2 linked regions of the Homo sapiens genome follow. Each later gene encodes a partner of the first gene's protein in a complex. Each region holds a gene or a part of one and is shown in the gene's direction. Other genes may lie near its edges.

Evidence for each region. The genes of interacting proteins can lie anywhere in the genome.
Region 2: ACTL6B (region 1) and SMARCD1 share a complex: the UniProt entries of both Homo sapiens proteins name them as parts of the BAF complex.

The regions. Positions count from the first base shown.
Region 1 is NC_000007.14:100,649,743-100,653,492, reverse strand, and holds part of ACTL6B (actin-like protein 6B), read left to right. Parts: intron 1-3,357; coding exon 3,358-3,455; intron 3,456-3,750. UniProt on the Homo sapiens protein: Involved in transcriptional activation and repression of select genes by chromatin remodeling (alteration of DNA-nucleosome topology).
Region 2 is NC_000012.12:50,095,217-50,098,966, forward strand, and holds part of SMARCD1 (SWI/SNF-related matrix-associated actin-dependent regulator of chromatin subfamily D member 1), read left to right. Parts: intron 1-1,633; coding exon 1,634-1,756; intron 1,757-3,497; coding exon 3,498-3,599; intron 3,600-3,730; coding exon 3,731-3,750. UniProt on the Homo sapiens protein: Involved in transcriptional activation and repression of select genes by chromatin remodeling (alteration of DNA-nucleosome topology).

The DNA.
Region 1 (3,750 bases):
TTTTTTTTAGAGACAGGGTTTCATCATGTTGTCCAGGCTGGTCTTGAATTCCTGGGCTCAAGCAATCTGCCCGCCTCGGCCTCCCAAAAGGCTGGGATTACAGGCGAGATCCACCACACCCAGCCCAGTTGTATTTTAGACTTTAAAAGAAATCAGTATTCAGTATTTACATTCTTTTTAAATTAGAAATAATTTTAAGAGAATCTTTTGCAGAGATGGGGTCTCATCATATTGCCCAGGCTGGCTTCAAACTCCTGTGCTTAAGCGATCCTTCTACTTCAGCTAACAAAGTGCTGGGATTACAGGCATGAGTCACTGTGCTCAGCCCAATATTTACACTCCTATTACTATGTATGCTAATCAGGCCTGAGACAGGCAATACACCATGATCACCTTTCCTTTCTTGTGCAACTTTTTGTTTTCCTAGAACTGGAAAAAAAATGTGTTCAATTTTTTTTTTTTTTTTTTTTTTTTTTTTTTTTTTTTTTTTTTTGAGACGGAGTTTTGCTCTGTCACCAGGCTGGAGTGCAGTGGTGCGATCTCAGCTCACTGCAAGCTCCGCCTCCCGGGTTCAAGTGATTCTCCTGCCTCAGCCTCCTGAGTAGCTGGGACTACAGGTGCGTGCCACCACGCCCAGCTAATTTTTGTATTTTTAGTAGAGACGGGGTTTCACCATGTTGGCCGGGATGGTCTCGATCTCTTGACCTCGTGATCCACCGACCTTGGCCTCCCAAAGTGCTGGGATTACAGGCGTAAGCCACCATCCCAGCCCTGTGTTTGATTATATTTGGTCTGGTTTTCTATCTACTTAACAGTGTGAACCCTAAATCATTCATCAATTGTATCTTTTGTCAAGACGTCAATTCCATTAGATATTTTATCAATTTCTTTTTTTTTTTTTTTTTGAGACATAGTCTTGCTCTGTTGCCCAGGCTGGAGTGCCATGGCGCGATCTCGGCTCACTGCAAGCTCCACCTCCTGGGTTCTCCTGCCTCAGCCTCCCGAGTAGCTGGGACTACAGGTGCCCACCACCACATCCGACTAATTTTTTGTATTTTTTTTTTTTTTTTTGAGATGGAGTCTCACTCTGTTGCCCAGGCTGGAGTGCAGTGGTGCGATCTCGGCTCACTGAAAGCTCCATTTCTCCTGCCTCAGCCTCCCAAGTAGCTGGGACTCACACCATTCTCCTGCCTCGGCCTCCCAAGTAGCTGGGACTATAGGCACCCACCACCACGCCCGGCTAATTTTTTGTATTTTTAGTAGAGGCGGGGTTTCACCGTGTTAGCCAGGATGGTCTCCATCTCCTGACCTCGCGATCCGCCGGCCTCGGCCTCCCAAAGTGCTGGGATTACAGGCGTGAGCCACCACACCTGGCCTCTCATCAATTTCATTTCTTGAAGAAATTTCTTCAGGAGCCCACTGACCTGGTCCAGTTTGCACTAGTAGCCCTCTGCCAGGGGACAGACCTGTCATGCTGGCATCTTCCTTCACCATCATCTTGTAGAATCCTTTTGCCTCTGTCCTGGTTAGAAGTCCTGTTTCCTGTACTTGACTCCTTTTCTTGACTTATTCCTTTGTTTTCATGGAGCAGGTCCTTCAGTAACTGCCTTAGAAAGGTCATGAGAGGCCAGAGACAGTGGCTCACTCCTGTAATCCCAGCACTTTGGGAGGCCTTGAGTCCAGGAGTTTGAGACCAGCCTGGGCAATATACTGATACCTTATCTCTACCAAAAATATAAAAATTAGCTGGCCATGGTGGTGCATGCTTGTAGTACCAGCTACTCGGAAGGCTGAGGCAAGAGAATTGCTTGTACCCAGGAGGCAGAGATTGCAGTCAGCCTAGATCATGCCACTGAACTCCAGCCTGGGCGACAGAGTGAGACTCCATTTAAAAAAATAATTAATTAAATAATAATCTAAAAAAAAACTTTTTTTTTTTTTTGAGATGAAGTGTCACTCTTGTCCCCCAGGCTGGAGTGCAATGGCGTGATCTTGGCTCACTGCAACCTCCGCTTCCCGGGTTCAAGGATTCTCCTGCCTCAGCATCCCAAGTAGCTGGGATTACAGGCACCTCCCATCACACCTGGCTAATTTTTGTATTTTTAGTAGAGACGGGGTTTCACCATGTTGGCCAGGCTGGTCTCAAACTCCTGACCTCAGGTGATCTGCCCGCCTTGGCCTCCCAAAGCGCTGGGATTACAGGCATGAGCCACCGCGCCCAGCATCTAAAAAAAAAATTTAAAATAAGGTCATGGGAAGTATATTTTTTGAGACTTTTGTGTGTCTCACCTTGAGTTGATAGCTTAGCTAGGTATCCCATGCCAGGTTAGAAATCATTATTCTTCAGAATCTTGAAGGCACTTTTCCATTGTCCTTCTTCCAGCATATATCGTTGCCATTTAGAAGGATGAAACCATCTGATTTCTGATCCTCTGATGTAATGTTTTTCTTTCTGAAAGTTTATAGAATTTTTACTTTATCCTCAGTGTGGTGTATTTTCATTCATGGCTCTAGGCACTTAGTATGTCTCTTCATTCTGAAAACATATGTCTTTCAATTCAGTGAAAAAGAATTATTTATTTAATTATTTATTTCTCTCCATTTTCTCTCTTGGGATTTTCTGTTATTGGATTTTGTTGCCCCCTGAATTGGTCCCCTAATTTAATTCCCTTTTCTCTTATATTTTCCATCTCTTTACCTTTTTCCTTTGGTTTCCAAGATATTCCCTCCACTTTATGTTCCAATCCTTCTATTGAGTTTTTCATTTCTGTTCATGTAGTTTTAATTCCCACAAGCTCCTTACTTTAAATTTTTTTTTTAATGAGACAGCATCTCACTATGTTGTCCAGGCTAGTTTCGAACTCCTGGGTTCAAGCAATCCTCCTGCCTCGGCCTCCCAAAGTGCTGGGATTATAGGCGTAAGCCACCCTGTCTGGCCTGTGCAAATGTTTTAAATGCATGTGTGTGTGACTGTGAGTGTGAATATATGTGTATGTGTGTGTGTGAGTTTGTGTGTGAATGTGAGTATATATGTGTTTGACCGTGTGTTTGTGAGTGTGTTTGCATGTGTGACCGTGAGTGTATGTATAGTGTGAATGCATGTGTGTGTTTATGTGTGTCTGTGAATGTGAGTGTATGTGTGTGTGTTTGAGTGTATGTGTGTGTGTGTGCAAGTGAATGCATGTGTGTATGACCGTGAGTGTATGTGTGAGTGTTTAGGTTGTGTATGTGTGTGCAAGTGTTTGGATGTGTGTGTGTGACCGTGAGTGTATGTGTGAGTGAGTGGGTTGCGTGTGCGTGGATGTGGGTCTGTGCCTCTCCCTTCCTGAATCCTCCCCCTCTGCACTTTCTCCACAGTGGAACACACGGGCCAAGCGGGAGAAGCTGACAGAGCTGATGTTCGAGCAGTACAACATTCCTGCCTTCTTCTTATGCAAGACGGCTGTGCTCACCGCGTATCCTCTGGACTGAGCTGCTCTGACTGGGTGGAGGGCTGGGGTGGGGCCTGTGCTGAGCTCAGCTGTGATGAGCTGGAGGGTCAGGCCTGGTTCTCTGAAGATCAGTGTCCCAATGGGCAGACACCTCCCTCTGCCCCACTAGTGCAGAAGGCCCAGTGGACTGAGCACCTCCGACTCTGGGGTGGCCAGATCAGCGGCCCCTTTCGGTTCCCCGGATCAGGCTGAGCAGACAGTGAGCTGGGCCCGGGAGAGAGTAGGGGCTGGAACTGGACAGAGGAGGGAGACGTGTAGA
Region 2 (3,750 bases), on another chromosome or scaffold:
ATCTGGGTTGTTATTACTAGACGCAGTCCTTGCAAATAAAGCCAAAAGTGCTTTGGGAACATGAAGGAGAAAGGGAGGCTTTGCTGGAAGAGTTGATGCCCCAACTAAATCTTTTCTTTTTTTTTTTTGAGATGGAGTCTTGCTCTGCCGCTCAGGCTGGAGTGCAATGGCATGATCTTGGCTCACTACGACCTCCGCCTCCTGGGTTCAAGCAATTCTCCTGTCTCAGCCTCCTGAGTAGCTGGGACTACAGGCACCTGCCACTACGCCCGGCTAATTTTTGTATTTTTAGTAGAGACGGAGTTTCACCATATTGGTCAGGCTGGTCTTGAACTCCTGACCTCAGGTGATCCACCCGCTTCGGCCTCCCAAAGTGCTGGGATCACAGGCGTGAGCCACCGCGCCCGGCCCCAACTAAATCTTGAAGGACAAAGTGGGTGTTAATGAAAGGGCAAAAAGGATAGTAGTGCTGGGGGCATAGGAGGCAGAAGACGTTCCAGAAAGAGGGAATAGGGCATGTAAAGGTCCAGAGAAGAGAGAGAGAGCCTGGTGTCTTAAAGAAGTACGAGCCATTTAGTATGCTAGATGCAGCATAGAGTGCCGAGGACGGGATGTTTTGGGAAGGAAAGCTAGATAGGGAGCCAGATGCCTAATTATGAAGAACCTTTGATTCAGGGAAAACTGGTTTATGTTTCATCCCGAAGACTGTGTAAGACAGCTGGTTGAGAGATCATTACCAGTGGAGGGACTGATGCTATTTGTATATAGAATGATCACTTGCAGGAAGGTGGATGGAGAATAATTTGTCAAGAGGGCAGGGCTGGAGGCAGGAAGCCCAGTTAGGAGGCTGGTGCAGTAATCCATGTGAGACGTGTTGAGGCCCTAAATTTACAGTCCCGACAGTGAGGGTGGAGATAAGTAGATAGATTTGAGAGGTGTCAAGGTGGAATTGAAGGAATTTGGCCACTGTTTGGATTATTAGAGTGAGGGATGAATGAGAAGGAAATGTTATGATGCCTCCCAGGTCTCTAGCTTGGGTGGACAGTAGTATTTACTATGACTGGGAAGAGGGGAGGAGGAGGAGCAGGTATTGGAGAAACGGTAGTGAGTTTAATGTCAAGTTTAAGCAGTTGGATTGGTTGGAGTATAGAAGATAGACTCTGGGCTGCAGACTGGGGACTCATTACCCTGTCACTGGTAATGGAAGATATACAAGTCAAAGAAATTGCCGGGAGGAGTATGCAGAATGAGAAGAGAGTTGAGAACAAAACCCAGAGATGAGAGCTTATGAGACAGCCCCATATGCCAGTCCTTTTCTTCCTGAGAACACTTTTGGACCCATTTGTGCTGTGGAGTAAGTATTCATCATGTAGCTTTGCCCATAGTGGGCAATGTGGAGACCAAAAGGAAAGCTTTCCTCACATGGGGTATACAGAGAGACAGAAACAAGGGCAAATTACTTGCTGAAAGAATGCCAAGGGTCGGAGCAGTTGGAGCTCTATATGATGGTGCCAGCTGTGGGCAGCATGGTGACTAGGTTGGAAGTGGCATGTGGAGTTGTCAGGCACCACCTGCCATTTAACTTCTCATTTTTCTAGTTTGAAAATGGTATGAGCTTCGTTCTTCCTTTCAGATCCATGAGACAATAGAAACCATCAACCAGCTGAAGACTCAGCGGGAGTTCATGCTGAGCTTTGCCAGAGACCCTCAGGGTTTCATCAATGACTGGCTTCAGTCCCAGTGCAGGGACCTCAAGGTAAAGAACCTAGGAGAGGTCTGAAGGGACTTAGGTCAGTGAGGTGCACAGCTGCTTTATTCATGTAGCAGCTGGTAGGAGACCCAGAGGAAGGAGTGAGGGGCCAGATTTTTCTTTAGCATGTTCCAGGGTCCATTTTGCAATTAAGCAGGGAAATGGGGGCAGAGCCATCAAGTGTTGATTTAGTGCTTACTTTGTCTGTCACTGTGCTTCATCTTGTCAGGGATACAGAGTGGAAGACCTGATCTCTGCTTTCAAAGCAGCCTACATTCTGTCTGAAGAAACTAGGCTAGTATAGCCGGGCATGGTGGCTCACACCTGTAATCCCAGCACTTTGGGAGGCCGAGGCCGACGGATCGCTTGAGGTCAGGAGTTTGAGACCAGCCTGGCCAACATGGCGAAACCCCGTCTCCACTAAAAATACAAAAACTTAGCTGGGCGTGGTGGTGCGCGCCTGTAATCCCAGCTACTTGGGAGGCTAAGGCAGGAGAATTGCTTGAACCCAGGAAGCAGAGGTTGCAGTGAGCCAAGATCGTGCCGCTGCACTCCAGCCTGGGTGACAGAGCGAAACTCTGTCTCAAAAAAAAGAAACTAGGCTAGTATGATACAAAGTAGTAAACCACATAAGACATTATCAGGCCAGGTGCGGTGGCTCACGCCTGTAATCCCAGCACTTTGGGAGGCTGAGGAGGGCAGATCACCTGAGGTCAGGAGTTTGAGACTAGCCTGGCCAACATGGTGAAACCCCATCTCTACTAAAATAAAAAAATCAGCCAGGCGTGGTGGCGGGTGCCTGTAATCCCAGCTACCCAGGAGGCTGAGGCAGGAGAATCGCTTGAACCTGGGAGGTAGAGGCTGCAGTGAGCCGAGATTGCGCCACTGCACTCCCAGCCTGGCTGACAGAGTGAGACTCCATCTCAAAAAAAAAAAAAAAAAAAAAGACATTATTAGACTGACCAGGACCAATAAGATGATTCAGATAAGGGAGATCAGTGAGACTAGAATCTCTGGGGAAGGCTTCATGGAAAATTTGGGATTTGAAGACGTTCCCAGAAAGGGGAGCACAGTAAGCTCAGACAAGAAGATAGGAATGGGCACAGAGTATGAACTCATCCGTTGTCACCCCTCCTGTGCTGACTGTGACGAGTTAGAGAGGCTGAGCAGAGGAGCAAGGAAAAAGGGATGCCAGGAAAGATCCCTGAACAAGGCAACGACTTGTTGATTGCAGAGGTGACTGGGTGTTGTATCAGTTTGCTGAGGCTGCTGTAGCAAACTACCACAAACTGGGCAGTTTCAAACAACAGGCTTGTCTCACAGTTGTGGAGGCTGGAAGTCCAAAATCAGTGTGGGCAGCACTGCTTCCTTCCGCGAGCTGGGAGGGAGACTCTGTTCTGTGCATCTCTCAGCTTCTGGTACCTCAGGCATTCCTTGGCTTGTAGGTGGTGGTCTCTGTGTGACTTCACGTTGTCTTCCTTCTGTATGTGTCTGTCTCCATGTCTAAATTTCCCCTCTTTATAAGGGAACCTACCGGTCATATTAGGGGGTACTCTAATGACCTCATCTTAACTTGAGCATCTGTAGAGACCCTATTTCCAAATAAGGTCACATTCACAGGTACTAGGGGTTGGTTAGACTTCAACATTTTGGGGAAGGATACAATTTACCCAATAATGGGTGTGAAGGAAGGAAACAAGCCTTTTCTCCTCTCTCTTCCTCCACCCTGCATCTCCATTTCCCTCAGACAATGACTGATGTGGTGGGTAACCCAGAGGAGGAGCGCCGAGCTGAGTTCTACTTCCAGCCCTGGGCTCAGGAGGCTGTGTGCCGATACTTCTACTCCAAGGTAAGTACATGGGGTGCACGGGGGAAATTGACAAAAGGCACGGGGTTTTCACCCCTGATGGGGGTCAGTGGTGTTAGATACCAACTTCTGGTTTGTCTCATCTTCCACTCCCTTCACTATTTTCTCCTTAGGTGCAGCAGAGACGACAAGA